7 linked regions of the Homo sapiens genome follow. The protein of the gene in region 5 purifies or fractionates together with the protein of the main gene of each other region. This does not show direct contact. Each region holds a gene or a part of one and is shown on either strand. Other genes may lie near its edges. The genes, in order: SUSD1, NRP2, CACNA2D1, TCTN2, DEFB135, ATRNL1 and CTBS.

What was found.
Region 1: the proteins of DEFB135 (region 5) and SUSD1 purify together in Homo sapiens (affinity purification with mass spectrometry; one large-scale study listed by BioGRID and IntAct). This does not show direct contact.
Region 2: the proteins of DEFB135 (region 5) and NRP2 purify together in Homo sapiens (affinity purification with mass spectrometry; one large-scale study listed by BioGRID and IntAct). This does not show direct contact.
Region 3: the proteins of DEFB135 (region 5) and CACNA2D1 purify together in Homo sapiens (affinity purification with mass spectrometry; one large-scale study listed by BioGRID and IntAct). This does not show direct contact.
Region 4: the proteins of DEFB135 (region 5) and TCTN2 purify together in Homo sapiens (affinity purification with mass spectrometry; one large-scale study listed by BioGRID and IntAct). This does not show direct contact.
Region 6: the proteins of DEFB135 (region 5) and ATRNL1 purify together in Homo sapiens (affinity purification with mass spectrometry; one large-scale study listed by BioGRID and IntAct). This does not show direct contact.
Region 7: the proteins of DEFB135 (region 5) and CTBS purify together in Homo sapiens (affinity purification with mass spectrometry; one large-scale study listed by BioGRID and IntAct). This does not show direct contact.

The regions. Positions count from the first base shown.
Region 1 is NC_000009.12:112,172,498-112,176,567, reverse strand, and holds the start of SUSD1 (sushi domain-containing protein 1 isoform 2 precursor), read left to right. Parts: upstream 1-1,270; 5' UTR 1,271-1,332; coding exon 1,333-1,435; intron 1,436-2,554; exon of another isoform or gene 2,555-3,154; intron 3,155-4,070.
Region 2 is NC_000002.12:205,741,501-205,745,000, forward strand, and holds part of NRP2 (neuropilin-2 isoform 2 precursor), read left to right. Parts: intron 1-1,702; coding exon 1,703-2,052; coding exon of another isoform or gene 2,053-2,079; exon of another isoform or gene 2,080-2,198; intron 2,199-3,500.
Region 3 is NC_000007.14:82,440,978-82,445,025, reverse strand, and holds the start of CACNA2D1 (voltage-dependent calcium channel subunit alpha-2/delta-1 isoform 1 preproprotein), read left to right. Parts: upstream 1-1,248; 5' UTR 1,249-1,566; coding exon 1,567-1,661; intron 1,662-4,048. UniProt on the Homo sapiens protein: The alpha-2/delta subunit of voltage-dependent calcium channels regulates calcium current density and activation/inactivation kinetics of the calcium channel. Plays an important role in excitation-contraction coupling.
Region 4 is NC_000012.12:123,674,113-123,677,612, forward strand, and holds part of TCTN2 (tectonic-2 isoform 1 precursor), read left to right. Parts: intron 1-3,500.
Region 5 is NC_000008.11:11,981,010-11,985,055, forward strand, and holds DEFB135 (beta-defensin 135 precursor), read left to right. Parts: upstream 1-1,246; 5' UTR 1,247-1,311; coding exon 1,312-1,375; intron 1,376-3,411; coding exon 3,412-3,581; downstream 3,582-4,046. UniProt on the Homo sapiens protein: Has antibacterial activity.
Region 6 is NC_000010.11:115,946,432-115,949,499, reverse strand, and holds the end of ATRNL1 (attractin-like protein 1 isoform 1 precursor), read right to left. Parts: 3' UTR 501-3,068; downstream 1-500. UniProt on the Homo sapiens protein: May play a role in melanocortin signaling pathways that regulate energy homeostasis.
Region 7 is NC_000001.11:84,557,441-84,560,940, reverse strand, and holds part of CTBS (di-N-acetylchitobiase precursor), read left to right. Parts: intron 1-3,500. UniProt on the Homo sapiens protein: Involved in the degradation of asparagine-linked glycoproteins. Hydrolyze of N-acetyl-beta-D-glucosamine (1-4)N-acetylglucosamine chitobiose core from the reducing end of the bond, it requires prior cleavage by glycosylasparaginase.

The sequences.
Region 1 (4,070 bases), on a different chromosome or scaffold from region 5:
CTGTCTGTCTGTCTATCTATCTATCTATCTATCTATCTATCTATCTATCTATCTATCTATCTATCTGTCTATGGAGTCTCACTCTGTCGCCCAGTCCGGAGTGCAGTGGTGCGAGCTCGGCTCACTTCAACCTCCGCCTCCTGGGTTCAAGCAATTCTCTCGCCTCAGCTTTCCGAGTAGCTGGGATTACAGGTGCCTGCCACCGTGCCCACCTAATTTTTTTTTTTTCAGTAGAGACGGGGTTTCACCAAGTTGGCCAGGCTGGTATCGAGCTCCTGACCTCAAGTGATCCACCCGCCTCGACCTCCCAAAGTGTTGGGATTACAGGCGTGAGCCACCGCACCGGGCCAGGACATGTCTTCTATTGCCTGATTCCTGCAGCAACTCCGGGCTGGACTCTTTGCCTTCCACATCCCAACCCAACCCCAATCCCAATTCCACAGAACAGACAGAGATGTGTCAGTGATGAAGTCATTCACTGCTTGAAACTGTGACAGCTTCCCGGCGACCTCCATCACTTGGGTTAGGAGGGCTAACTTCCCTCTGCAGCTCAACGCCCCTCTCCAACCCTCTGCTCTCACTCTAGGTCCCCATTCCCCATTTCTACAACAAACTCCCGCTTAGATTCCTCCCCAACGTCCTTCTCATCCTTGGGTCTTGGTTTACTCCTTCCCTTGGGATGAGTACGGCTGTGATGGAGGTAGGGGCTGGCATCAGCGCGTCCCAAGCCGGGTGTCCTCAGAGCAGCGGGGACTGATGCCAGCCCCTCCCTCCATCACAGCCCTACTCTCTCTCACTCCCGGTGACCAGGTGTCACCTGGTCAAGTGTGTCGCCCCTGGGTGGCCTGGGTCTGCGTCTTCCGACCTCTCATCTGGGCCTTGCGCTGTGGTCACCTCATCCAGCTCCCTTTCACGTCCTGGAAGATTTCCGCCCCTTGCTCCCCTCACCCCTCTCCCCGGGGGTGCCTCCCTGAGCCCTCGAGTGGCTTGAATCCTCCGCAACATTTCCTCCCCAGCACTCTCCGGGGCTCTGCGTCCAGCTGTGTCATTATCCGATGAGTGTCTGTCCCCCTTTGCGAATGTGAGCGGCGAGAGGGCAGCAAGTGCGGAGCCAGAGACGGACGCGGAACGGGCGTGTCCTAAGCCCAGGCCCCGACAAGAGGAAGGACCCGCGCTCTGCGGCCTCCCGGGGACCCCGCAGCGCCCCCCGCTTCCCTCGGCGGCGCCGGAAGCCGCCGGCTGGTCCCCTCCCCGCGGCGCCTGTAGCCTTATCTCTGCACCCTGAGGGCCCCGGGAGGAGGCGCGGGCGCGCCGGGAGGGACCGGCGGCGGCATGGGCCGGGGGCCCTGGGATGCGGGCCCGTCTCGCCGCCTGCTGCCGCTGTTGCTGCTGCTCGGCCTGGCCCGCGGCGCCGCGGGAGCGCCGGGCCCCGACGGTGAGTGCGGGCTGGGACGGGCACGGGCGGCCGGCGGGGCCCCCGGCTGGGCCTCGAGGACTCTGGGCGCACGGACGCTTCCCCGCCCCTGGGCCGGGCCGGCGCGGTGCCGAGGCGTGGGGCGCAGGTGGGGCCCGCGCCGGCCGTTGGAGATCGGCAAGGAGGAGCTCAGAGAAGCGGGGGGCTCCCCGCCGGGCTTCCCTGCCCCCGCCCGACCCCGCGACGCCGGGGGACGCCGGTTTTAAGGCGGCCTGGCCGGGCCCCCAGGGACCTCCACTGCCCAGGAGGCGGGGTGGGGGCTGGGCGCGAGCGCGGACCCGGGCAGGGCGGCGCCCGGGGAAGGGCGGGGAGGCCAGGGCGTTCTGCGGCGCTGTCACGCTTCCGGCTCTGCGGTGGCTTTTGCATGACACATTTTTGACCCGAAGCAATTTTCTTACCACTTTTAATTTTTTCACGTTGTTAGAGAGCCGGATGCTAAATATGGTGAGAAAGACGCGTAAGGAAGAGTACAGGAGTGAAGCCATTAATTCACTCATTCATTCAACAGATGGCCCTTGAACAGCTTCCCTGTGCGCGATGAGGGCGGGCAGTGCGGGCCCTCGTGGAGCTCATTGTCTGGAGGATTTAGACCAGCAAATGTTCTATTTCCAAGCAATCGAGGGAGTTGTTTTTCCTCCTCTGCAAAATGCAGTGTTGAGCTGAGTAGGAATTACACAGAGGATTCAGACACGCAGGGGAGGTGACATTCATCCACATAACTGTAATACAAGGCAGAATGGCATGGGTGCCATGAGAAGGTGTGGGTGGTGAGGGCAGGGAAAGGGGAATCGGTGGTGACCCTTGAGCTGGGCCATCAATGATTGGTCATATTTGGATATGGGAAAATGTGAAAAAGGTATCCCAGCTCATAGCAGAAGGCACTGTCACCTCTCCACAAATGAGTGTAGAATGAATGAATTCCTTCAGAATTCAGGCCCGGGGGAGAAGGGAAGGAAGCACACGGAGGCACCAGAGGCAGAGGGCAGAGTGCCTTGATTGGCAGACCTAGGCCTTTGGACTTAGCTGTGCCTGGAAGCCACTGGAAGCCGTCTCAGGGAGTGACAAGAAAAGTGGGTCTAGCCAGTTCTAGGCGCTTCGGGAGCCACAGGTTACAGTGCAGACATGGCCAAATCCAAGCACCACACCACACACAACCAGTCCCGAAAATGGCACAGAAACGGCATCATGAAACCCGGATCACAAAGATACGAATCTTTTAAAGGGGTGGACCCCAAGTTCCTGACAAACATGCGGTTTGCCAAGAAGCACAATAAGAGGGGCCTAAAGAAGATGCAGGGCGACAGTGCCAAGGCCATGAGTGCACGTGCTGAGGCCTTGCCCTCATAAACCCCAAGGAGGTTAAGCCCAAGATTCCAAAGGGTGTCAGCTCTTGCCTACGTTGCCCACCTCAAGCTTGGGAAACGTGCTCGTGCCCGCATTGCCAAGGGGCTCAGGCTGTGCCAGCCAAAGACCAAGGTCAAGGATCAAACCAAGGCTCAGGCTGCAGCTCCAGCTTCAGTTCCAGCTCAGACTCCCGAAGGAGCTCAGGCCCCTACAAAGCCTTCAGAGTAGAGATCTGTGTCTGCCAACGTGAGGACAGAAGGATTGTCCCCCTTGGACTGCCATCTGCATGGGGCTGATGTCCTCCTTTGCTATTTGTATAAGTAAACTTGAGGCGGGGGAAAGAGGGTCTAAGGAACCCCCATCTTCCTTACTAAAACCAAACGCTGATCCTGAAGTGGAAGGAAATTTCCATGTGATGACATACAAGGAGACTTGTGGTTGAGAATCCTGCCTGCCGCCCCCACCCCCATTCTCTTTGGCTTGGGACTTTTACCATGCCTGATGGGTATTTCAATGGCTTGATCTTCTGGAGTGGCCATTTTTGTAATATTAGGTGCCCTGGTTAAGATTCCTTCCTTGGCTCTATCTCCGAGAACAGTGCGCATAGGACTTGCAGATGCTTGGCGTCTATTTCAGGATCTTCCTGTGATATCTCTAAGGTAGGAAACTGTCCAGTATGATCCCATTGAATTGTTAGACTAAGATGGCTGAACACAGCTAGTAGCTACGTAAGGTCATCTGTAACTAAAGGTTTTGGGGGTGAATTTGGGGAAACAGAAGTCAAGGCTTCCTGGTTGAGCCCCCTCTCCTTATCTAGACATTCTCCCTTCATGTTCAACCTTGGAGAACCTGGTTTTATGAAGGGCAGGTTTCCTGACAGTCGACAATGTAGGGAAAGACTGGAGGCTTGGACAAGCCCATTGAGGAAGTTGTTGCAATAGCTGGCCTGGAAGTTCTGAGGACTGGGCCCACAGTAATGACAGCAGAAACGGACTGAATGTAGACAGTAAGGTGGAAATGGACTGGAAGGAAGGATTTAATAACAGATATGAAGGTGCAAGGGAACAGAAGGGGAAAGATGACACTAAGGCTTGGGGGCTGGGTGACTTGGTATATGTTTCTACGGAAGGAGAAAGATTTGGAAAGAAAGATGATTAGTTGTTTTGGACATCCTGAATTTGAGGTGCTGTTATGGATTTGGAGAGATGAAATCAATAGACTTGATGGTTGCTTGAAACCTTGAAGTTGACAA
Region 2 (3,500 bases), on a different chromosome or scaffold from region 5:
GAGAAGACCAGAGTGGGAGTTGGGACATTATAGGAGGCAATGCAGGGGGTGCAGATGGGAGATGATGATGGCTGGATTAGCCCCAGAAATTTATGGACAGACCAATCCCCTTTATCTTGTGGGCTCAGCCCAGGGCAGGCAAGTTGCCTCTTTGACCTGGAAGTGTCTTCAGTGTACATCCATCCACGTGCCTTTCCCCTAATCATTCCAGCTCTGACAGGGAGTGCTCCAAGGTCTGACCCTGTTTGAGGTTTCTAGTTAAAACACCTTGTGTTTGTACAGTCTCTGCATCTCCACATGCCTTTCTTGTTTATCATCTTGCCTACACTTTCTAACAACCCTGTGAGGTAAGGTGGGCCAGGGACTGATAAGGAAACCAAGACTCAAAGAGGCTAAATAGCTTGCCCAAAGTCATTCAACTAGGAGGTGACAGAGCCAGGATCTGAACCCACGTTTTCTCAATTCAAATTCTCTGCTCTTACCACATTTACACAAAGACCCATTTTCTTCTAATGGGATCAGTTTATGCTAATCCTGTCTAGGGGACTATTTTCTGTCCCTTCCCTGTTGCTGTTCCAGGATAATCAGCAAAGATTTAGGTAGAGGTCATTCTCTGGAAGATTGAAAGGAGAGAACCAGTGATTTTGAAGAAGGGGAACAACGTGGAGGATCTTTTTTATCCATAGCTCAGTTTGCAAGTATGAAATGCACATTGACTATAGACCCTGCCTTGCCTGACATCATTTATTCATGCATTCTCCACTCAATCATTTGTTCCACACATCTGATGTGCCAGGCACACACTGGGAATGGGACATAGAGACAGGAACAAAATAGATGGGGTCTCTGACATCGTAGAACTTTCAGGCTACTGAGCAAGATAGATAATAAACAAATGCAAGTACTGGATAAACTAGAATGTGCACATGAAGGAAAAGAACAGGGTGCTCTGAGGGAAACCAATTTAGTGAGGATTGAAAATTTGGGAACAGCTTTTCTGTGGATATGACACTTGAGCTTGGGGGTAAGAAAATGTTAGTCTGGGGGTGACTGAAGGGAAAAGCATTTGGGGTAATGGGAACAGCATGTGGGAAGGATCCAAGGCAGTAAAGAGCAGTTATTTGGGAAGTAAAGACCTGATACTGATGCCAGGAAGGTTTCCTTCTACTTGGCAAAACAATTACTAGGAAATAATTCAATGTTTAGCTCAGTTCCCCTGTTCTCAGTGTCCCTGATAGGGTCAGTGGGGACTAGTGTCATCGACAGGGATGTGCAGACACACATTCTGAGAGTCCTTGGTTAGAGCTGTAAGCACAAATAGTTAATGGCCATTGGATACTTAAATATGCCAGGCACCATCCTGTGAGCTCTTAGTAACTAACAGAATCCTTGCAACAGCCCTCAAGAGGTAGGCACCTCTATTAGCTCCCCTTTAGATCTAAGGAAACTGAGGCAAAGAGCAATTAAATAATTTGCCCAAGGCCCTCTGACTAGTAAGTGGCAGAGTGAACATGAACACAGGCAGTCTAGCTCTGAGTCCAGGCTCTTAACCACAGTGCTGTACACATTCACCATGCAAAGAAATTAGTGCTGACTTAGTATTTGACAGTTGGGCTCTTTTGCAGCTCCCTTCTTATAGCGGGTGGTCCCTGGTTAGCAGGTGTCAGCCATGACCTCTTGTATCTTCCTCTCCTCTCTGCAGATGCTCCCTGCTCCAACATGCTGGGGATGCTCTCAGGCCTCATTGCAGACTCCCAGATCTCCGCCTCTTCCACCCAGGAATACCTCTGGAGCCCCAGTGCAGCCCGCCTGGTTAGCAGCCGCTCGGGCTGGTTCCCTCGAATCCCTCAGGCCCAGCCCGGTGAGGAGTGGCTTCAGGTAGATCTGGGAACACCCAAGACAGTGAAAGGTGTCATCATCCAGGGAGCCCGCGGAGGAGACAGTATCACTGCTGTGGAAGCCAGAGCATTTGTGCGCAAGTTCAAAGTCTCCTACAGCCTAAACGGCAAGGACTGGGAATACATTCAGGACCCCAGGACCCAGCAGCCAAAGGTAGGCTGTTCTTGGAGGCCTCTGTAACGTTACCCTCAACAGGGAGGCTAAGTGTGGTACAGGGAGTTGAGACTGATGATGTCCCATCTAAACAGTCGTCATCCAACTCCTGAAATCCAATAAAACAAATATCGTTTGAGAGATTACTTTGTGCCAGGCACTGTGCTAAATACCTTATTTCTGACTCTTTTGTTTGTTTGTTTGTTTGTTTTTGAGATGGAGTCTCTGTCACCCAGGCTGGAGTGCAGTGGCCTGTTCTCGGCTCACTGCAACCTCCGCCTCCAGGGTTCAAGCGATTCTCCAGCCTCAGCCTCCTGAGTGGCTGGGATTACAGGTGCCCGCCACCACACCTAGCTAATTTTTGTATTTCTGGTAGAGATGGGGTTTCACCGTATTGGTCAGGCTGGTCTCGAACTCCTGACCTCAAGTGATCCACTTGCCTTGGCCTCTCAAAGTGCTGGGATTATAGGCATGAACCACCGCGCCCGGCCTGGACTCTTTTTTAATCGTTACAACATCTGTGCAAAGTAGATCTTTTTGTCACTCCCATTTTAGAGATGATAAACTGACACTTGATATCATGCCCAGGGTCACACAGTTCACCTGTGATAGAGCCGATTCAGAAACCGGAAGTCTGACTCCAAAGTCCAGATGCCTAACCCCTACTGAACACTGCCTTTTTATAAAGTTCAACACTCTTTATACACTCTTTCAGATAAAGTTTCCTTGAAATTGGCCAGACATCTAAAGGGGATGTGGTTTTTGGAGGCCAAGCTATAGAAACTAGAGGATGACTTCCAAAAATAACGATGTTTTTCTGAATGTCGCTGCATTCCTTTGTATTCTCCTAGTTTTGACTGCTTAGATCTTTCCGGCCTCTCAGACTGAGGCAAGGGAGAAGCAAGAGAAACTCACCCCGAGCCAGAAGCTCAGGCCAGTACAGCTTACTCCCCTGCCACCAGAGTGAAGGTCAGCCTTCAACACAGACACAAGGAGCCCCAGAAGGGGAGGAGACGTCATACCTCTGTCCCTCCCCAGATCAGTCTCCTGGCAGGCCAGGCTCTCTGATTCTTATCTCTAGTTACCCCTTGTTTTTCTCAAAAGAACAGGTCCCTAAAAAAGGAGGGAGTTTGCATGTCTCGGGGCCACCTTTGCTAAGCAAATGTCTCCATTCTGAATACAGAGGCAAGAGTTGGGTTGGAGGTTTTGCGATGCTGAGGTAAACTCCCAGCTCTCAACTCCAGAGGCTTAGAAAGGCTCAGGGCTTGGTAACTGGAACCTTGCATCGATGGAGCAGAAGTTGGACCGCAGGCTTCCCCATGGAGAGCTGAGCCTGGTTTTTCTTGGGAAAGAAGTTGATCTTTGCCATTGTGGGAGACAGCCCTATCCGAGACAGTGCTTCTGGTTCAGAATTGTGGACGCAGGGCATCCTGAAAACTGGAGCGGTC
Region 3 (4,048 bases), on a different chromosome or scaffold from region 5:
TCATGTCAAAAGTATTCTCATACACTACTAGAGGGAGCTTAAGAATTTAAGGTGTGCAAGAATATATTTCTATCTTTGGCCCACCAGGGCCCTCTTGTAGGAGGCCTGTGTTGGGCGGGAGAGGCCTAGTCGCAGACCCTGTCTTTTCAAGGAGAAAGCCCGCCACTGCTTCCTCTGAGTCTGGAGATAAAACCAGTCCGGCATTGCTACTCCCTAGCTCTCTCCCCCTCCCTTAATTCCTCCTCTACATTTCAGGCGCATTTCTCAGAGTGCCACCTGTTCCTGCTGCTTACCCTTTTCATGCCTTCGCATTGACAAAAGTGAGCTCACCCTGCGGTAACCTTGTCAGGCAGGGCAGGCCAGTGGCCAGAGCAGGGCGTTAGGACCCTTTTGGAGGTAGTCCCAACTGGGATGCTGCAAAGCGCTTCTCTTACTACTGTCCTCCCTAGATGCAGAATTCGTCCCTCCACCCCTCTGTCCAATGGAACCACAGGGCTGGGAAGATTTTACAGCGTCAGTACTTCTCTGTCCGTCCACAGCCCGGTCCCTGAGGCTCTGTCCTCGCCAGGTGAGCCGAGCAGTACCTGGGCGTGGGACCGCTGGCACAAAGGGCACCCAGCCCCGGCAGAGGCTCTAACCTATGGCACACGCGGGCATATAGTGCCACCTGGTAGAGAGTCAACAGTGGTGCTTTAAAATGCAATACAAACCCCTCCTACATTTGTTGTCAAATCACTTCACGATTCCCAGGCAGGCACTGGATTCTGCGCCTGGGAGTAGGGCTGGGGGGGAACGCTGCCTGCATGTGCAAAAATAACCCCCGAAGACGCGAGCCAAGTCCTGGGTTGGAGCCTCTGCAGCCTGTGGATGCCCGCTGGGCGGCTGGCCGTCCCCCGGGAGCCCCGCGGGGCTGGTCCGCTCCGCCTGCGCACGCCGGGCGGCGGGAGCGAGCCGGCGCCGACTTTGGGAGTTCCTGGCTGCCTTGTATGGAGGGCTGCTCCCGGCCCGTCTCCGCCCGACTGCTCTGACGCCCAGCCCTCCCGCTGCCCACCCCCAGCCGCCTCCCTCTGACTTGCCTAAGAAGCCAGACGGAGCCTCTCGCTTCCACAAGTCTCTCTGCCTGCCATTCCCCGATTCCTGCAGCCACCCCCACCCTCCAGCGCCGTCACCCCTCCTCCGCCCCCGCCCCCGCCTCCGCCTTCGCCTCGGCAATCGGGGGAATAAATCAGGGAGGAAACCGAGAGGGAGAGCGAGAGCGCGCGAGCGCCGGCGGGCTCGCCGAGGTCTGTTTCCAAAGTCGCCCTTGATGGCGGCGGAGGCAAGGCGGCCGCGGCGCGGAGCAGCCGACGCACGCTAGTGGGTCCGCCCGCCACCGCCCCTTCCTCGGCGTCCGCTCCCGCCCTTGCCGTCCCCCGCGCGGCTCCGCGCCTCGGGCCCCGGGCGCAGCCAGCCCTCCAGACGCCCGCGGTCCCGGCGGCGTGTGCTGCTCTTCCTCCGCCCGCGGTTTCCAGCGCCGCTCCTTCCCCCGCTTGGGCAGGGAGGGGGCATTGATCTTCGATCGCGAAGATGGCTGCTGGCTGCCTGCTGGCCTTGACTCTGACACTTTTCCAATCTTTGCTCATCGGCCCCTCGTCGGAGGAGCCGTTCCCTTCGGCCGTCACGTAAGTCGGCGGGCCGGGCAGGGAGCGCCGGCCGAGGGGCGCCGCGGGAGTTGGGGGTGGGGGTCGGTTCCCGAGTCGCGGGGCTTTTCCGCCCGTGGGGGTGGGGAGCGAGCGGCCGGGGAGCCAGGCTCGGATGCGGAGACGCCGGGCAGGCGGTGCGCGCCGCTCGCCGCTGGAATGCGTCCCGAACCGGCGTCTCGGGCGCCTCCACGGGGCCGGGCACTGGGGGCCGACTGTCCCGGGAAGCGCCCGCCGACGACTCGCGGCGTCTCAGCCCGTCTCTAACGGGATTCTCTAGACTTCAGAGTGCAGCCGTACTGGGGAAAAAAGTTTCCAGCCAGCTCACCCGCTCTGATTCAACCCAGTTCAATAAAAAGTTATGTTTTGGTTGGGTAATTTACAAACAGGTAATTTCAGGCTTGCCGAGGTAGCGTGGACTTCCCCCGCACTTGGCCTCGGAGATGCTCTTTAATTGCTGTAGTGCCCAAACTCGTTTTATCCCACGTTACTGGATGCACTTGACAGCCTTCCGATTAGACGCGTGCTGGCTCCCCGCGGCCGAGCGTGCTGTCCACGCAGGGGGCTCGCAGGTACTGGGACCACGCGATCCAACCTCCCCAACCCATTATTTGAAACATCTAAGTGTCGGCAGACACGCGGTCCCTGTTCTTCAAATGAATAGAGCCTATTCTTTGAAGGAGGGACTATTTCCAGTCTCCTACAAATTTTCTTTTATTTTTACCATTTCTAAAATAACTTTTAAAAACCTCGCTGCTGTTCTGGAAATAGAGGGCTTATAGGTAGCTATAGTCACACCACAGGAAGGGAATGAAAAATAATAATTCTCTCCTTTCTTAGCAAAATAGAATCAAACTCAATGGCACATATAAATATATACATATTTTTTAATGCACCGAATAGCCTATCCGGCATTCTGGGAAAGCATTTATTTTGGTTCTTGGAGCTTCTTTAAAGCTTCTAAAGGTAGGTAATCTTAAGTGGATGAGTCACTTTAATGCATTTTACATAACAAAAACAAAGCCCAAGGTAGCTTTCCCGGTATTTATGCTGCTGGGAATTACTTGCTGTCCTTTGTTGGCTGAGTGCTGAATACAGGAGTTTTTGGTGGAAAGTAACAGTGAATCTTTAGCGGTTGAAATCCTGCGGCTATTATTTAAGATTCAGTTTTAAGTATTTATTACCTTAGGTGTCAGTGCAAGAATCTGGAGGATGCACATTCTATCCCGGAGAAGGGGAGTGTCTAATTTTTGTTGTCATTGAGTTACAGTAATGTTCCTCTTTAGATAATCTTCCATAAAACTGATTGCAGATCCTTTTTGTTATGAAGCAAAAGGGTAAATGCCATCTGGAGATCTTCGTTTAATTGGCAGGATGTTCCAGTCAGATATTTTTAAACATAAAAAGAGTAAGAATCACCCTAAGGATGCTTCAGAATTATTTACTCTTATTAAGGCATCACACTTCCATTTAATTTTTTAAGTCTGTTTGTTGCTTGGCCTGTAAAGTGAGAACTCAAATGAGTCGCTTGCATTCTGTGTCAAATAAATAAGTGGCTCTTTAAAAAACAATCACTTCCTAAATGTGTTCCGATTACTCATTTTTACAGTGTTGTTTTTAACTGACAATTTATCAATATTTTTATCATGGGAGGGGATACATCATCATACCATTGGGGAAAACTACAACAAAATACAACCTTTTATTCCTCAACATACTGTGGTAAAATATTAATGTAAAAATCCTTATTGTTAAGAAGAACATCTGCAATAATGCTTTCCTAAAATTATAAGTAAATCAATTTTCATGGTCAGAAATTTACTAGACACAAGAAAGAGTATATATAGTGGGTTAAAATGGGAAGTAGGACATCACAATTTCTTTTCTTTGGAAGGATCTGAAATTTTTTTTAACGATGAAAATTCAAGATATTTTCAAATTATATAAGACATTGATTATTTAATGAATGAAATACTTAATAAAAGGTTTTGTGGAGCGAAGTCAATCTCCTGTAGGTAATCTTAACAATATTTTTGGAAGCCTTCTGCATCTTCAGTTTTTCATTTGAAAAGTTAGTAACACTGTCTTCTGAGGAAAGAACTGATGGTTGACATTTGTACTTCATGTTAGATTTCTGAATAAACTTTATGAAATTAAAAAATGCAATATTTTTCATAAAGATGTGCCATTTGCTTTTCTTTCGAGAAAAGAATTCATATGCACTGTTTAATCAGGACAAATCTCAAATCTTTGGGGGAAAATTTCAAATTTATAAAAACTGAGTGCAAAGACTGTAGTGTCAATAAAGGCAAATTATTATGCTTCTGTATGTAAATTTCTCTCGGAATCATTAGTAAATATTTTTGGGT
Region 4 (3,500 bases), on a different chromosome or scaffold from region 5:
TTTCTAAACTTATTTTTCTTTTGTTTAGTTTTCTTTTAAGAAATTTCATTTTGTACTATTTTATTTAACATTTATTTGATCTTTCTCTACTGTTTGCATCTTTATAAGCTACCTTGAATCCTTTTTGGGAGAAGGTGAAATTTGTTTATGTACATTGATTCTCTCTCTTTTTTTTTTGAGATGGAGTCTAAGTCTGTCACCAGGCTGGAGTGCAGTGTTGTGATCTCGGCTCACTGCAACCTCCACTTCCTGGGCTTAAGCGATTCTCCTGCCTCAGCCTCCCGAGTAGCTGGGACTACAGGCTCACGCTACCACGCCCAGCTAATTTTGTACTTTTAGTAGAGATGGGGTTTCACCATGTTGGCTGGGATGGTCTTGATCTCCTGACCTTGTGATCCGCCTGCCTCGGCCTCCCAAAGTGCTGGGATTACAGGCGTGAGCCACTGTGCTCGGCACGTGCATTGATTGTCATGACTGCATCTTAAGAAGAAAAAAGGAAGGGTGGCCAGACGCAGTGGCTCCCACACTGTAAGTGCTTTGGGAGGCCAAGGCGGGGGAATTTCTTGAGCCCAGGAGTTCGAGACCAACCTGGGCAACACAGCAGATACTGTCTCTATAAAAAATTTTAAAAAGCTGGGCATGATGGTGCCTGCCTGTAGCCCTAGCTACTAGGGAGGCTGAGGTGGGAGGATCGCTTGAGCGTAGGAGTTTGAGGCTGATGAAGTTTACATCATTTCCAGCTTTTTTTAAAATTTATTTTTATTTTCATTTTTTTTAGAGACACGGTCTCACTCTGTTACCCAGGCTGGAGCTAGAGTGCAGGGGCACGATCCTGGCTTGCTGCAGCCTCAACCTTCCTGGTTCAGGCGATCCTCCTGCCACAGCCTCCATAGTAGCTGGGGCTACTGGCGTGCACCACCACACCTGGCTAGTTTTTACATTTTTTGTAGAGACAGGGTCTCACTATGTTAGCCAGGCTGGTTTTGAACTCCTGGGCCCAGGTGATCCTCCCACCATGGCTTCCTGAAGTACTGGGATTACAGGCAGGAGCCACTGCACCTGGTCTGTTCCCAGCTTTTGATGCTACAGCAAAGATCGTTATGCCCGTGTACATGAATCTTTGGACATGAGAAAATGGTTTTGTGTTCATCTCCGTCTCACATGATGTTAGTGTTCTTAAACCAAAAGAGCTTTCAACTAGATGTGCCGATGTAGAGGGCTCTGCAGTGATGAGTGCTACTGCCATGTCCCCTGTCTCCGGTGGCGAACTCTGACATCTCTTGCCTTTATGGCCACGTGGCATGGAGGGAGAAGCGTTCCAGACTTTAGTAGCAAAAGTCTGTTACCTGGAGACTCCTTTACTGCCGCTTCCCTTATTACATCCCTAACTGTGGTCCTCCTGGTGCTTCTGGAAGTTTAGGATGATAAGACAAGTTTTGACAGCTCCTTTCAGCAGACTACTGTGCCCTCAGTGTACTTGCATGGAAAGGCCTCCATGATGAATGAAGTGAAAAAAGCAAGTGCAGATGGCTGCCTACAGTGTGCTATCTTTTGCATAAAGGAGGCAGAAATGAAAACATTTGCATAAAGAAATTCTGGAAGGATGTTGGAGAAGCTAATAATGTGCTACCAAGTTGGAGGATGATGTGGGAACAGGAAAGGGCTGACAGTGAGGAATTTTTTAATATGCTTTTGATTTTTTGGAACCATGCAAATGTGTTACCCACTTAAAAGTTTTAAATTTTTCTATGGCTTAAAATTCAAAACAAAGCCAAAAAAACCGTATTCAATGATGAAAAAAAAAATCCCCCCAAAACAACAGAAGGGATTCATGATAGCTGTACCATTCAAAGCACTGACTTTTTTCCTTTGAGAAATATGCTTGAGGCCAGGTGGTGGCTCATGCCTGTAATCCCAACACTTTTAGAGGCTGAGGTGAGTGGGCCACTTGAGCCTAGGAGTTCAAGACCAGCCTGGGCAACATGGCAAAACCCTGTCTCTACAAACAAATACTACAATTAGCTGTGCGTGGTAGTCGGTGCCTGTAGCCCCAGCTATGAGGGAGGCTGAGGTCGGGGGATCGCTTGAGCCCAGGAGGTGGAGGCTGCAGTGAGCCAGGATTGCTCCATGTACTCCAGCCTGGTCGACAGAGCAAGACCTTGTCTCTAAAAAAAGACCGGGCGCGGTGGCTCACGCCTGTAATCCCAGCACTTTGGGAGGCTGAGGTGGGCGGATCACGAGGTCAGGAGATCGAGACCATTCTGGCTAACACGGTGAAACCCCGTCTCTACTAAAAATACAAAAAATTAGCCGGGTATGGTGGCGGGTGCCTGGAGTCCCAGCTACTCGAGAGGCTGAGGCAGGAGAATGGCGTGAACTCGGGAGGTGGAGCTTGCAGTGAGCCAAGGTCACACCACTGCACTCCAGCCTGGGTGACAGAGCGAGACTCCATCTAAAAAAAAAAAAAAAAAAAAAAAAAGGAAAATATGCTTCAGTATATTTAGGTAATATTTAATATTTTAGAATACCAAACTTAGAAAATTGAACATCTTTGTATATGAGTGATTGAGTTGTCAGCTCTGACCCCATGAAGGCATGAAAAATTTTTTACTCAGCCAGCCAGCGATTAAAACTAGAAAAAGAATGGAAGCACAGACAGGAGGTATGTGTCATACCCAGTAACAATGAAGCCAGCGAACAATGTAGAAAACATAAATCAACACACAAACATCTATTTGTATAACACATAGTAAAACCCTATTCTGAAGTGTCTCGTGGCTGGGGGTGGTGGCTCATGTACTATGCCTGTAATTCCAGCACTTTGGGAGGCCAAGATGGGAGGATCACTCGAGCCCAGGAGTTTGAGACCAGCATGGACAACATAGTGAGACCCTGTCTTTACAGAAAATATGAACGTTACCTGAGCATGATGGTGCACACCTGTGGTCCCAGCTACTTGAGAGGCTGAGGTGGGAGGATCACTTGAGCCCTGGGAGGTTGAGGCTGCAGTGAGCTGTGATTGTGCCATTTCACACTTCAGCCTGGGCAGCAGAGTGAGACCCTGTCTCAAAAAAAAATCAATAAAGTGCCTTGCTTGTGTCACATGGGTTTGATAACACTGAGGGTCAGACCCTTACCCGTGTAACGTGGTCTGCGATGTGGACCTTCTCCTTGTTCCGGATACCATTGATGTATCATTGACCTTCTGCTATGTTACAGGATAGAACAGATCGTTAGTTGTTCTTTAGATACTTCAGCTATTGTGTCATTACAGTTAACTGTTATGTGGGGTTTAAACAAATAGTTCCTGCATGGTTTTCTAACGTGTACCAAATGCAAAAGTAAAATTCAGCAGAATGAAACTTTTATCTGATAAATGATTGGAGAGAAATCCAAAGCATTACTGTCACTGGATTCTGAGTTAGGAGGCTGAAATGTCGTGTAACATATTCCTCTTCAAAGAGGAAAACAAGTTCGGAAACCTGTAATATCCTGAAGAG
Region 5 (4,046 bases):
TCATTTGGCCTTGCGACAAGCCTTCCTGATAGGTGGGAATGATGGAGTACAACCTATTTTTTGTTGTTGTTGTTGTTTAAGACAGAGTCTCACTGTGTCACCCAGGCTGGAGTGCAGTGGTGCAATCATGGCTCACTGCAGCCTTGATCTCCTGGGTTCAGGTGATTCTCCCACCTCAGCCTCCTGAGTAGCTAGGAGTACAGGCGCTCACTATCATGCCTGGCTAATTTTTGCATTTTTTGTAGAGATGGGGTTTTGCCATGTTGCCCAGGCTGGTCTTGAGCTGCTGAGCTCAAGCAATCCACCTTCCTCAGCCTCCCAAAACGTTAGAATTATAGGCATGAGCAACTGCACCTGGCCAGGTGTACAACCTTCTTTCCAAGTGAGAAAACTGATGGTCAGTGAGGTAAAGTACGTGCTTTATTAAAAGCTTGTCAAGCTACTGCATGCAGAGTCCAGACCAGAAAGACTTTCTGATTCTGGGTTTTGTGTTCTTCATACAGTATCAGATAAAGTTGCTGAAAAACTTAAAACACTTCAAAAACTGTCAAACACTGTCGACTTTAGTCCCTCCAAGCAAGACTTTTGTCATAAATTCTTTGTATGCCCCCCCATTACCCGGCACACAGCATATGCTCAATGGGGAGCCATAGACTCAGTGTTTTTCCCTGGGTCATGTTGCGGGTGTTATGGGGACTTGCTTTTTCCATGCTGTTTTTGAGGAGCTCTTATTTTCCTAAAGACATTACAGCTATACCAGAACTGGGCAAGGCCATACTTTAGTACTTCTGTATATAGGAGTCAGGGAAGCCTGCTTATAAATCATGTTGCTACCATTTAGGATCTATGTGAGCTTGAGAAAGTCATTTCTTCTACCTGAGACTCTTTATTTTTGTTTTTAAAATGGAGAGAATCATGCCTACCTGGACTTCGTGTGTGTGTAAGGTTGAAAAAAAAAACAAACTCTTTGTCAACTATGTAAGGCAGCCTTATGGTTCTCTGCACACTATAGGCATTTTAGTGGATGTACAATGAAGATACACAGACACCTACACAGCACCCTACCAGGGCCTAGAATAGGGCTGCCTACACAGTGTTCATGCAGTTGCTAGCATGCATGTGGCACCCAGGAAGTGTGCTTTAATGAAGGGATGTCATGTTCAAACAGACATTTTGCTGATTGGATTGCTCAGTGGAGCAGGCAGATGTTCTTGTTCCAAAAGGTTCACTAGCCATGCAGCTCCCCGTCTCTTCAAAGCTGCGGAGAGAGTGACTCTCCGATGAGTCACAGCTGCTTCTTTGCTGATTGGTATGGCCACAAGGAGCGTCCTCTTGGCCCTCGTGGTCCTTAACTTACTCTTCTATGTTCCACCAGGTAAAATGGAGTCCCCACCTTGTAGAATTAGGAATAGTAAAGGGAAAAAAGGTGTGAGGTTCTACAAGAGTGAGAAAAAGGCAGGACTTGGACAAAGGAAGCTGCAACAGGGAGGAAAGTGAGCAGAGATGGACATGCTGGGCTGGTCCAGAGAATGGAGAAAAGATCCAAAGGACACAGAACAGGAGGTAGCTCTCTTCAGAAAAGAAACTGGTTATGGATTTTGGTTTGAGGAGCTGGTGAAGTTTGAGGGGAAGGCTGGACTGTTGGTACTGGCAGAAGTAGGGCAGAGCAAAAAGATGAGACTTTCAAAGAATAGCGAGGACTTGGGGATGAGAAGGAGACTGTTCTTTGAGGGCTCTTAGAACTTGCCTTCTACAGTCAGCCACCCATGTTATTTTTCACTCATTTAGAAGCCAAGGTAAATTTTATGCTGAGCAGAATCCACAGACACAGCTGGTTAAGATGTATTACACTAACTTATAGCATGATGAGGTCCTATGAAACATCAGTTTGAGAGGTCAGAATTTACATTCTGTGGACAGAAGCCAGCAACTTGGTGATAATGAGAAGAGTCTACTTCAGTCACTAAAGTGGAGGTTCTCAAAACTGTTTTGCTTGTGGTTTTCTGGGGTCAGCAGAGAGCCCCTACCCTTTGCCTCAAACCTTCATATATAAAGCGTATCACTCAAGGACCAAGTGTGAAGTGTTTAAAAGACAGATATGAGGCTGGGCGCGGTGGCTCACGCCTGCAATCTAAGCACTTTGGGAGGCTGAGTCGAGTGGATCACCTGAGGTCAGGAGTTCGAGATCAGTCTAGCCAACATGGTGAAAACCCGTCTCTACTAAAAATACAAAATTAGCCGGGCATGGTGGCGCATGCCTGTCCCAGCTACTCGGGAAGCTGAGAAAAGAGGATCACTTGAACCCAGGAGGCGGAGATTGCAGTGAGCTGAGATGGTGCCATTGCACTCCAGCCTGGGCAACAAGCGTGAAACTTCATCTCAAAAATAAAAATTAAAAAAAATAAATAAAACGAAGACAGATACGAATGAGGACCATGTTGAGATGATGGCTGATGTCCTGCATGGTGGGACCTCCGACACTTTGCAGTGTGTCTCTACTGGACTCCTTTGTCCCCAGAAAAGTGCCTGAGGTCTAGGGAGCACATGGTGGGCAAGTTTGCCTGCTAACGGCCCTTGACCATACCACATTGATTATTTTCACACCACAAAGGTTCAATCCATGGACTCATGGGGGCACCTGGGTGGAGAAACTGATAAGACTTAGCATGCAAGAGCAGGTGATACAGTAGGGGCAACTCAGGGCCACCCTTACCCTCTTAAACTGCCTTCCTATTACCCCTCCTCCACCCTCTGGTTTCCAGAGGCTCCCAGTTCTTAAGGTGTAGAAAAATTACTAGCAATAAATTTCCATATTTGTCTCAGGTATTTCAAACCATTTCACACTCATTCTCCCATGGGTGCAAAGTACCCATGGGAGAATGGGTACTTCTTAAGTACCTTGTGATTAAGCACTTGACAAAAAGTCATGCAGAATGTTTTTGGGGAATACAGGGGTAGAAGTGCAGGCTTCTAAAATTCCACTTCAGTGATCCTTCTTTCTTTATGCTGACACTTTGATAATCACAAACTGCCTCAGGTAGCTATTCCAGACCCTGCATGCCTCCTGGTATGGGACCTCTGCAGGCTCCTGGGATGACTTCGATGTCTGAATATTCTTTCTGAAGCCAATAGTCTCAAGCTGAATATGCTGGGTCCTGTTAACTCCACACAGTTGATCAGTAATTCATGTAACTAATTGTGGATTCATATAATGGCTTATAATAGGGCCCCTGGAAAACAAGGTAAGAGCAACTGAAAAGGGGCATCCAGCTATAAAATGTCTTGAGTATCTTTGATCGCGTCTAATTCATTATTAAAAAGTGAAAACTATGGTCTGAGGTCTAATTTTATCCATGACAACATGACACTTCAGGACACTAACTGTGCATTAACCTTTGTTTCTCTTGGCAGGTAGAAGTGGACCCAATGTCTACATACAAAAAATCTTTGCTTCATGTTGGCGACTGCAAGGTACTTGCCGGCCAAAATGTCTAAAAAACGAACAATATCGTATTTTGTGTGATACTATACATTTGTGCTGTGTAAACCCAAAATATTTACCTATACTGACTGGGAAATAGTTGTGAGTACCTGAAAGCTGTTGCTGATTTCCTCTGGGAACCCAGATCCCTCTCAGTTGCACCATTCGATTAAAACAATGGCTTTAGCCTATCAGTGTTCCTGTGTCTGCTGTATTTCTCTTTATTGTCTCTCTTACAGAAATACTCTAATTCCTTGTATTGAGTATTTTTCTTTTTATTAATTTGTCGCTTCTTAAAAGTCTCTTAAGAACTTTTTGAAGTATAACATACAATTAAAAAATGTACAAATCATGAGTAAACATCCTCATGAACTGCACAAATTTAACACACCTGTGTAACCAGCATCCTGCCCCCACAAAAGAATGTTACAACATCCCAGGCACTACCAGTCACTACTCCACACAAAATAATTCCTAGCCTGACTTTTAATAGGAAGGCGCTGACATCTATTTTTGAACTTTATATAAATGGAATTGTAGGTATTCCTTTGTGTCTGGCGTCTTC
Region 6 (3,068 bases), on a different chromosome or scaffold from region 5:
TCTCGGTGAGACCTTACAGAGGCCTAGCAGAGCAGTGCCACTGAAAGAAGGCTGGGCCCCAGATGGCCACATAAGGACCAAGCCCAGAGCTTACCAGAGAACCTGCAGGCTTTTCCCAGAAGAGTCAGCTATGCCAGAGCTGCCCTGGTCTCAGATAGCTGACTTTTATTCTAAGTAAGAGCAATTTCTATAACACATGTCCTGTGGCGTAGACCCTCATTATAGCTAGATTCTTAGCTGCTGGGCCTTGTGAGTTTTGCCTTTAATTCTCAGGAACATTCCAAGTGCTCAGCAAGCCCCTCACAGAGAACGTACAGGAAAGGTCAATGCAAATCTGGTGAAGAGAAAAAGAGGGGGAAATGTATTTTGAATGTCAAAATTCAATAACAAACTATATAATCACCTCTTCGATGGAGAGGGGCTTTTTCAAGTTCTCAGAGTGCTTTTTCCTGTGTGACCACGAAAGGATAAAACACAAACAAAAACAAAACAAAACTGCATTTGGCAGTGGGGGTTGGAAGAGCCAATGTTTTTATTTAATAAAGTCCTGATTAACAGCATATTATAACATAAAATGTTGGCTTTCTAAAACGGGCTTGAACTTTTACACAATCTTTTGAACACTGGCATGCACACCTGTGTACATATATACTGATAGGAGCTCTGGTTCTAATTCTTAATTTCAAAAAATTTTGATAAAACTAAAATGTTAAATGTACACTCTAATGAAATCACTGCTATAACTAACACCAACCAGATGGCTTGTATTCCTTGGAAAATTCTTTAAAGCATTTTGAATTAGAGTAATAACTTTGTTATTTAGAGAACTCCCTCTAATGGTCGATTAAAGGCAGCACTTTGACCCAATGCAGTGTTTCCCTAATTTGCCTAATGGTAAGAAGCACTGAGGAGCTTGTTAAGAGTACTGCTCTCCAGGGCCTACCCCAGTGTTTCTGAATCTAAATCTCTAGAGGTGAAAGTGGGAATCTGCCTGAACCCAAGCAATTCCTGTAATCAGGTAAGTTTCCAAGCTCACTCTAGTATACGGCAAATGGGTTTTGAAACTCGACATTTAAAAAGACCATAGGTGGGTAGAATTAGTTCATTTGGTCAGTTTTCATTTTACAATCTTTTTTAAATATAAGACACCTTTCAAATCATAGTTTTATGTTCACTGAGAAAAGATGTATCATGTATAACCACAAAATGTAAGCACTGACCCTGTCTTGCCTAGTTTGTACGTGAAAGGTGATCATTGATGCTCTTGTCTCAATGTCATCAGTCAGTAATTTTAAGAAAAACTCTCCTAAAACTATAGATTTAAGAAGAGTTTAAGTCTTTATTGACTAAATGTCAAAGTCGTTTTGTAGAAATCCCTATATCTTAGAAATACAGGAACTTAAGTTATTCAGGGAGTCTTTTTGAAAAACCTGATTGACCTTTACCTACGACCAAAAGATGGATGAAAATTAATAGGTGGATTCATAAAACAACTGGTAGAAAAAGAGTGGCCTGGTGTCCCCACGGTTGTTAATACCAGCTACGCTGCATCAAGGTCCCACTGTGGGAGCTTTCTGTGTGTTACCATCTAGCCTCGCAATGCCTCGAAAGGTGGGCACCATTACCGCCCTTTACAGATGGAAGGCTGAGGCTTCAAAGGTGAAACTTACCCAGCACCACACACCTGAAAGCTGGGTCCAGTGCCCGTTTTCCAGCCTGTGTGCCAGTGTGCACCCTAAATGACCTTATACCATGAACTGTAGCCATACAGTCACCTCTATCTTACTGCAGCTAAAAGAAGATGAGATGTTGGGAAGTACAGCAAGGATCAATTACCTTTTTAAATACGAACTATTTGAAGTTTTCCTACTGAACATAACACTATAGTATACGGCATCTCTGTGTATCACTAAAACAAATTTTCATTTAAAGAATTATGAGAATCCTAATCCTCTTAAAATTTATTAGCTGAATCTGTAAGTATGTGCAAATTCTTTTCCAATAGGAATTTTCTAGTTCAAATAGAATCCCCAGGTTAATTTTTAAAACTCCATTGTATTTAACCATTTTTTTTTCATACTTGGCAGAATAAAACATCCTAAAAATCTAAGGAATTTTTCAAAGTCATTCTAAACTGAAATGTTTAGAATTCCATTAAGGTTAGTTTTCAAGAGGATCAGCCATTTAACTGCGAAATTCTGGGAAAGTATCTGCATATTTGTGTGGTTTGATTTAAAAAAAATGAAAGCATCCAAATTTAAAGTGTCTGGAATGTAGGGGGAAAAACCAACAGATTCAAAGTGATTATCCTTGATCCTTGATGTCTTTTCAATCCACTTCACCTGAGGGCAAAGAATTTACTGCCAGTGAAAAGCTTTGATACGTTGAGAATTAATTGCATAATTAGCCACAGAGTTAGCAATATGTGGCCCAGAAAGGTATAGCATGACTTTAACTAAACATCACATTGTGTCTCATAATTCTCTACAATTTGAATTTTCAAGTTTTAAGAACCCAGTGGGATTTGAGGTGAATAAAACTTGATAATTCTTCCACAGTAATACTATCTGCTTAGCCTCCCTAAAAATATAGCTTATATAGATTTTACATCTAAATCTGTATGTTTTTGTATTTTTATTGTTATGCTTTCTCTTGTGACAATTGTTAGAGAAATACATTGGGCAATCACTTTTTAAAAAATGATTATATCTTTGTAATCATTAGTTTCATCAATTTATTTTTTCATGAGAGAAGTCAATATTTAGAGGGTCCAAAAGAAGCTAATAAAATTACTTGATTGTTTTTAGGAGATATTTACAAACTTAGCTCATTCCTTTAATGAGAGAGAAAATATCACAGGGAAGTAGAAACAACCAGTGGCCTCCCCCTCCAAAAAAACCCCACAGATTATAGATAAAATTACTAAAATTACTCTAAGAATTTGTCTTATTTTTAATGCATGGAAAATAGCAAAATTATCATGCCAACATGAGGAATATATACTATAATTCATAAATGCCTAATTATCAAAATAATGACATAGTCATGGTTAGATGCAACCTAGAAAT
Region 7 (3,500 bases), on a different chromosome or scaffold from region 5:
CTCTTGGGTGACCAAGTGCATTGTCAATGAGCAGTAATATTTTGAAAGAAATCTCTTTTTTTTCTTAGTACATCTCAGCAGTGGGCTTAAGATATTCAGTAAACAGATGTGCTGTGAGCCAGGCTTTGTTATTCCATTTATAGATCACAGGCAGAGTCAATTTAGCATAATTCTTAAGTGCCATAGGATTTTTGGAATGGTAAATGAACACTGGCTTCAACTTAAAGTTACCACCCTCATTAGTCCCTAACAAGAGAATCAGCCTGTACTTTGAGCTTTAAAGCCAGGTATTGACTTCTCCTGTCTAGCTAGCAAAGTCTTAAATGGCATCATCTTCTTCCAATATAAGATTTATTTGAAGAAAGGGGTCTCTGCCTTTTAAAATGTGTTTGATCATAATTTTACCCGACATGGGAGGTTTCAGAATGAAAACCCAAAGATACAGGAAAAACTGTCCATTTTTGTGCTTAGGTTCAACGAAGTATGGACAGCTATGTAGAACTGTGATCAGAATAAAGGGCATGAGCTAATGCAAACAGACTGAGTGGGAAAACTCAGCAAGGACTGTCTGTTCAGATTTTTCTTGGCCTCTCTGTGAAGGATTTCTTCTCATGGGTATGGGGTAGGACCTCTCTGGAATGAGGGTCTTAATTTCTTTATGGCCAGCTATTACACAGAAAGGTGGTGGTGGGAAAGGTTAGAGTAACATTTTTAGACTTTATGGCTGGTTTTGGGGAAAAGAGGCTCTAGTTTCTATGACCCATTTTAGGGAAGAGGGATTCTAGTTTCTCTTTCTTTCTTTCTTTCCTTTCTTTCTTTCTTTCTTTCTTTCTTTCTTTCTTTTTTTTTTTTTTTTTGAGACAGAGTCTTGCTCTGTCGCCCAGGCTGTAGTGCAGTGGCGCCCTCTGGGTTCACTGCACCCTCTGCCTCCTGGGTTCAAGCAATTCTACTCCTCAGCTTCCCCCATAGGTGGGATTACAGGTGCCCGCCACTATGCCGGGCTAATTTTTATATTTTTAGTAGAGATGGGGTTTCACTATGTAGGCCAGTCTGGTCTCAAACTCCTGACCTCAAGTGATCCGCCTACCTTGGCCTCCCAAAGGCCTGGGATTACACGCATGGGCCACTGCACCTGGCCAACACATTGTTTAAGCTCTTAGAATTCAGGAAACATTTTGGTGAGCCTTGAAGGCCATTTAATGTCACTTCAGAAAACAATCTAATTATAACTATTTTCTTCCTCTTTTTTATTCATTGCAAAATTCCCATTGTAAGGTTATTAGTCTAATTTCAATATCGTTATTAAGTCTTTTTTTTCTGAGATGGAGTATCGCTCCGTCACCCAGGCTGGAGTGCAGTGGCACAATCTCAGTTCACTGCAACCTCTGCCTCCTAGGTGTAAGTGAGTCTCGTGCCTTAGCCTCCCAAATATCTGGGGTTATAGGGATGCCCTACCATGCCCGGCTAATTTTTTGTATTTTTAGTAGAGATGTGGTTTCACCATGTTGGCCAGGCTGGTTTGAAACTCCTGACTTCAAGTGATCCTCCCATCTCGGCCTTCCAAAGTGTTGGCATTACAGGCGTGAGCTACCGCGCCTAGCCAAATATTGTTATTAAGTCTTATATGGGCAGTTCATGGTGCCCACAAACAATTACAATAGTAGCATCAAAGACCACTGATTGCAGATCATCATAACAGATATAATAATAATAATGAAAAAGTTTGGAATATTTTAAGAATTGCCAAAATGTGACACAGACACAAAATGAGCACTTGCTGTTGGAAAAATGGCACCAGTAGACTTGTTCAATAGAGTTGCCATAAACCTTCAATTTGCAAAAAATTTAATGTCTGCAAAGCACAATAAAGCAAAGTACAATAAAATGAGGTATGCCTGTAATTTAAAAATATGTAACATAGAATCTTAGGACAGTATATACTACCATATACTGTTTCTTTGTAATCCTGACCTTAGTAATCTGTGGCTTGTTTTTTCCTTAATGAATGTGAAAATGCAGGAACACATTCTTCTTTTTTTTTAGACGAGGTTTTGCTCTGTCACCCAGGATGGAGTGCAGTGGCACAATCATGGCTCACTGCAGCCTTGACCTCTTGGGCTCAAGCAATCCTCCTGCCTCAGCCTACCAAGTAGCTAGGACCATAGGCGTGTGCCATCATGCCAGGCTGATTTTTTTACTTTTTGTAGAGACGGGGTCTTTCTATATTGCCCAGGCTGGTCTTGAACTCCTGGCCTCAAGTGATTCTCCCACCTTGGCCTCCCAAAATGCTGGGATTACAGGTGTGAGCCACTGCACTTGGCCTCTTTTTTTTTTTTAATTAAAAAAAAGTGGCCGGGCGCGGTGGCTCACGCCTGTAATCCCAGCACTTTGGGAGGCTGAGGCGGGCGGATCACGAGGTCAGGAGATCGAGACCATCCCGGCTAAAACGGTGAAACCCCGTCTCTACTAAAAATACAAAAAAAATTAGCCGGGCGTAGTGGCGGGCGCCTGTAGTCCCAGCTACTTGGGAGGCTGAGGCAGGAGAATGGCGTGAACCCGGGAGGCGGAGCTTGCAGTGAGCCGAGATCCCGCCACTGCACTCCAGCCTGGGCGACAGAGCGAGACTCCGTCTCAAAAAAAAAAAAAAGTTTAATGGCAGGCAAAAATTATCTGTATTTATGGTGTAGAAGATGATGTTTTGATATATCTATACATTGTGAAATGGCTAAATCAAGTTATTTAACATATGTATTACCTCACATACCATTTTTTAAATGGTAAGAACACTTAAAATCCATTCTCTTAGGAATTTTCAACATAATACATTGTTATTAACTATAGTTACCACGGGATACAGTAGATTTCTTGTATTTATTGTTCCTAATTGAAAATTTGTGTCTTGAAATATCTATTCTTCCCACCCCCAGCCTCTGGTAACCACCTTTTTACTCTGTTTCTATGAAGAAACACATTCTTTAGGTCTCAGAATTCAGGAAACATTTTGGTGCGCATTGAAGGCCATTTAATGCCACTTTAGAAAAAAATCTAGTTATAACTGTTTCCTTCCTCTTTTTTTTTTTTTTGAGATGGAGTCTCACTATGTCGCCCACGCTGGTGTGCAGTGGCGCGATCTTGGCTCACTGCAAGCTCCGCCTCCCGGGTTCACGCCATTCTCCTGCCTTAGCCTCCCAAGTAGCTGGGACTACAGGTGCCCGCCACCAAGCCTGGCTAATTTTTTTGTATTTTTTTAATAGAGACGGGGTTTCACTGTGTTAGCCAGGATGGTCTCGATCTCCTGACCTCATGATCTGCCCATCTCGGCCTCCCAAAGGGCTGGGATTATAGGTGTGAGCCACCGCGCCCAGCCTCCTTCTTTTTTTTTTTTTCTTTTTTTTTTTTTTTTTTTTGAGATGGAGTTTTGTTCTTTTCGCCCAGGCTGGAGTGCAGTGGCACGATCTCGGCTGACTGCGCCCTCCGCCTCCCAGGTTCAAGCAATTCTC